Linked DNA regions of Homo sapiens: region 1 is linked to region 2. Evidence: fine-mapped expression QTL. A gene starts in region 2. The other region holds a variant in brackets. All regions are shown on one strand. Distances are between the middles of the regions. Region 1 overlaps HAL (histidine ammonia-lyase). Region 2 holds the start of AMDHD1 (amidohydrolase domain containing 1).

What was found. PIP is the estimated chance that this variant, and not a neighbour inherited with it, causes the effect. A credible set is the group of variants that fine-mapping cannot tell apart.
Region 1: its variant is the best candidate, but not a certain one, in a credible set for the expression of AMDHD1 in sun-exposed skin (GTEx, PIP 0.61).

What each region holds. Positions count from the first base shown.
Region 1 is chr12:95,979,449-95,981,948 of GRCh38, forward strand. HAL (histidine ammonia-lyase) reads right to left here. Exons shown (of 21, transcript NM_002108.4): 16 at 1,350-1,415; 17 at 1,108-1,273. Among named protein-coding and RNA genes, the nearest start is that of HAL, 16 kb to the right of the region's middle. The variant G/A (reference allele first, on the strand shown) is at 1,524.
Region 2 is chr12:95,941,922-95,944,421 of GRCh38, forward strand. AMDHD1 (amidohydrolase domain containing 1) reads left to right here and starts at 1,410. Exons shown (of 9, transcript NM_152435.3): 1 at 1,410-1,614. The coding sequence starts at 1,478. CCDC38 (coiled-coil domain containing 38) reads right to left here and starts at 693. Exons shown (of 16, transcript NM_182496.3): 1 at 510-693.

The DNA of each region.
Region 1 (2,500 bases), 38 kb after region 2:
ACTGATCTCCATTTTATGCAGGTGTAAATTGAGGATCAACAGGATAAAGAGGCTCACAGAGCTAGTAAATGGCAGAGCTGGGCTTCTGATCTAGCATCTACGCATGTAATAACTCATGCTATCCTGCCTTTTAGGGTAGGGTTGTTAGATAAAGTAAAGGATGCCCAGTTAAATTTTGATTTTAGATTAAAAAAATAATTTTTGTAGTACAAGTATGTCCCAAATAATTCAAATTTAACTAGTCATCCTGTGTTTTTGTTAAATTTGACAACCCTATTTTAGGATTAAGTATTGATTAAAATGAGATCCTCATTAATTGAAGTAAAAGCACATTTTTGCATGCCAAAATTCAGGGTTTGAATTCTGCTTTACATCTTGCTAGCTGTGCAATATTGGGCAAGTCACTTAACTCTCAGATCTTCAGATATTCATCTATAGATAACAATAATAGCACTTACCTCAGGTGACAATTGTGCAATTAAGTGAATGAACATAAATGAGGCCCTTAGTACTTACTTAGTGCCAGGCACTGTTCTGATGTGTTAATCTGTCTCTTACAATCTTGAGTCAGAAATAAACTATATTGAAGCTCAATCTTCACAGAGGGTATCCTGATTCTTATAAGCATTTTTTTAATGTTGCAATAACATCTTTATGTTTTTAGTGGTTGTTATATCTAGTGAAATGAATCCAAAGTTTAATTATAGGTTTAAAAGTTCAAAGTTTAATTATAGGTTGGTTCAAGTTTCACCATTAACTATAACCATCTTAGTCTTTTTCCAATAGTCTTCAAATGGAGATTTGGAAAAAAGCTATAGAGATGAAGTTCATATGCAATGTCAAATTGCTTTCCACAGAGAAATTGTCCATTACAGCCTTATTATTGTATTATTATATTTCAGCATAACAGTATCGAAGTTTTTAAACTATTTTTTTCTGAAAAATATTAGAGTTAACCTGTTACCTTTGCACTGAGAGAACTAGGATGCAGATAAAAGTGGTGAAAAGTTAGATCTCACTCACAGACCACATTTGATACTTCTAGGTGAAATGGAAAGACCCTTAGATGGACGGGCGTGTGTTCTGGGAAAGGGGCAGTGTCCTTACCAAGGGCTGCTGCCGTGCAGTGAGCTATCATGAACCCAGAGTTCAGACCACCTTCAGCCACCAGGAAGGCAGGCAGCTCACTGAGGGAGGGATTGCAGAGCCGCTCGATTCTTCTCTCACTGATTGCAGCAAGTTCATGGATGCCAATGGCCAAGTAGTCTAGGGCCTGAAAGAGGGTCTCCATTTAGTCAGCCTATATTGAAATGTGCCTTCTGGGTCAGGAGCAGTTTTAAAAAGCTTACTTTGGCTGGGTATTCACCATGGAAGTTTCCTCCAGAAACTGTCTCTCCCCTATTGGCAAAGACCATCTTTCAAAAGAGGTTAAGGCTTGAAGATAATGTTTGCTGGTCACTTCAAGTACAACCCCTTCCTGCCTTCTTTTTTAACGTGGAGGTGGCAGTCTGTGTACAAATGTG[G/A]GGTGGAGGGAAAGAGACAAGTCTTCCTGCAAGAGATATAAAGGGGCACAAAAGCAAAAAACAAAAAGCCTTAAAGGTGGATCATGTACACCCAATTTGGAGGCTGAAAAAACATGAACCTTGAAATGATGTTTTCTCTTGAGATTAGATTCTAAAGCACCATAACTGTACTAACCTGGTGGTTAGTACCTGCCCTCAAAAGGTTTATAGCCTGAAACTAAAAACAGAGACCAACACATCTGTTTGAAAGCAACTTCTGTTTCTTCAATGGGCACTGCAAATTTGTGTTCCATAGAAGAATCTGTTGAATGGGAAACTCTGCTGATGAGCAACTACCAAAATGTCTGGAACAATCAATTTTGAGAAAATTTTCAAATTCTTTACTCAGTAATCTGGTGTCAGCGTTCAACAGCAGATGGTGGCCAATATGTCCTCATGAATCCATTTTAAGTAGGTGGCAAGTTTAAATTTGCTGAATATTATTACTCTGAGGTAATTCTTTTTTTATTTTCTGTATCATTCTGTCACCCAGGCTGGAGTGCAGGGGCGCCATCTCGGCTCACTGCGACCTCTGCCTCCCGGGTTCAAGTGATTTCTTGTGCCTCAGCCTCCTGAGTAGCTGGGATTACAGGCATGCACCATCACACCCAGTTAAATTTTGTATTTTTAGTAGAGACAGGGTTTTGCCATGTTGGCCAGGCTGGTCTTGGACTCTTGGCCTCAAGTGATCAGCCCACCTTGGCCTCCCAAAGTGCTGGGATTACAGGTGTGAGCCACCAAACCCAGCCTCAGATAATTCTATTCCATCATGCACTTTACTTAAACCAGCAAGCACCCAGGAAAAGGCAGTAACAGATCCTTCTTCCTGGTTCTAAAGAGCTAATCTTTGCCTCTTGGGCTCAAGAATATTCATTACCTATTAACTGAGAACTTGCTGTGTGCAAGAAAGTTTCTAACTTTGAAAGAGTTAGAGATGT
Region 2 (2,500 bases):
TCTTTCCTAACTGATCTCTCTTTTATAGGCCATAATATGAAGCTAAATTATATTCTTATTTATCGTGGTCATCTAAAGGAGTGTTTGCTTTCTGTTCCAGGTTTTTTTAATGAGACTAAATTAACTTTTATATTTTGTGGGTTTGCAGGCTTAGTCTGCTTTTATAGTATATTATTTGTGTCCACATCTATCACTTTTATTGTAAAGTCTTTACTGGGCAGGGAAAGCGCCTTTCCTATCTTTGTATGTTCCACAAGACTTAACACAGAGCTTGTGATAAACATGAATAAACGAAATCAAGTAATTAAGGACTCAAAAGCCTGGGCCTGGCAGTGTTTCCATAGCAATTGGTAGCAGGAAGCGACGAGGCTGAGAATCACAGACCATCTTCCATAAACTTGATTCTGTCTCCAATTTTGGTCGCAAGTTGCTTGTAGGCCCACCAGACACAGCTGAGGGGTGGGAGGGGGCATGCGGAGGGGCGGACACTGAGCTGAAACCTATTTTACCTCAGCGAGTTTGGATCCAGGAGCCTTTCCAACCTATCGTTCGGGAAGGCGTTGTGGGAAAAGTGGGCGGAGGTGCCAATCGATCCTCCAGTCTCGGCTCTATCCTCCCCCAGCCCGGTTCCCGGTCATCTCAGGGACCGTCTGGTAGCTGATCCCGGAACGCAGCTGGCCAACGGATAAGTGCGGGGCACCCGCCACCCGCGCGGACCCAGGAGCACCTCCCCTACCGCATCCCCCTCCTCCCCACCCCCAGGTTCCCTCGGCTCGCGGCCCTCCGCGTCCCGGGCTCCCGCCCCAGAACCTGTGGGCAGATGTTTCCTCCACGCAGTACCCTCCCGGGGCTCTGCCTCCAGGCTCGCGTCCCAGCACCCTAGGCAGAGGTTTCCCCCACTCTGTCCTCTCCCGGGGCTCTACCTCCAAGCTCCCGTCCCTGCCCCTGGGCACAGCTTTCCCCTACTCTGCCCTCTCCAGGAGCGCTATCTCCAGGCTCCCACCCCAACCCCCCGGGCAGAGGTTTCCCCCATGGCCCCCCTTCCGGGGCTCTACCCCAGGTTCCGGTCCCTCACTCCCGAACACTCCGGGTGCCCTCACCCAGCCAACCCTTGACGCGCTTCCACATACCACGTGATCCACACAGCTCACTTTGATCTCTCGGGGTGACCAAGCTTAAGTTTCCTTATCTGAAAAGTAGGGACACTAGTCTCCATCTCGTTTACTCGGGATGGGACAAGACGACCAAAAAAGAGAGGATTCCTCATCAGGTTTATTACTCGTTGCCATTCTTGCAATGATTACCGCCCCCGTTGCTGTGGTTGGGGGAGGCGAGCAAAGGGCAGCGGCTGCGAGCGCCCGCCCCCGCCCCACCCTCCCAGCCCCGGACAGCGCAGGCTGCGGCTTTTCGTCCTCCACTGAGTCCTGCCGGTGGCCCGAGCCCGGTGGCCTCCCGGCGACCCTCGGCGCGAGGCGACATGGCAAGCGGCCACAGCCTCCTGCTGGAGAACGCGCAGCAAGTGGTGCTGGTGTGCGCCCGCGGCGAGCGCTTCCTGGCGCGGGATGCGCTGCGCAGCCTGGCGGTGCTGGAAGGCGCCAGCCTGGTGGTGGGCAAGTAAGTGGCCGGGCGCGCAGGGTGGGGACCGCCACGGGCGGAGCTGGCCGCTCTTCCTCTCACTGTGCACTCTGGAGGGAAACAACGCCGTGAAAGCGTCCCTGCACAGAGATACACGGGCAAGCCAGCCTTTGGGGTACCTGTTGCTAACACGCTCTGCTGCTTGGGGTTGTCATTCCGTCCAAAGAGCTCAGAGAGGAACACCCCATTGGAACGCATCAGGGTCCTGCCTCTGCTGGTAAAATATCACTGTCCAACCATCAGAAGGGGTTGAGGTCCTCCCCAGTGCTTCTTAAAGGGAGGCCAGAAGACCACCTTTGTCAGGGTGGCCTGTGGTTATTTTATTCTTACGGCAGATTTCTGATTCCACCTGCGTCCCCCACTCCCTATCCCTAGAATTTTAGAATCAGCATCACTGGGGCTGGAGTTCTGAGACCTGAATTTTTCAAAAGTACCTTTCACATCCTCGTGATCTCGTACACTAAAGCTTTAGAACCACGGAGAACATTTAGACGATAATGGCCCTGAGTGATAATAAATCAAGATTTGACCATCAGAAAACAAGATATTTCTCTTACTCATCTGAGCTTCCTGCCAGATATGAATAAAAGAACAAAGTTTGAGGGCGACCTGGGGTAGCAAGGGAAGTTGGATGAGAATTTGAATCCAAAGCGTGCCATGGGACCACAATTGCACACGATCAATGAGTCTCACAAACTGACCACGGCTTATCTGAGGCAGTTTAGGGTTGTGCAAGAGCCCAGCTTTTAAGGGACTGTGGGTTGGTTTAATTTTATTTATTTATTTATTTATTTATTTATTTATTTATTTATTTATTTTTGAGACGCATGAGCCACTGCGCCCAGCCTATTTTTTGTTTTTTTGA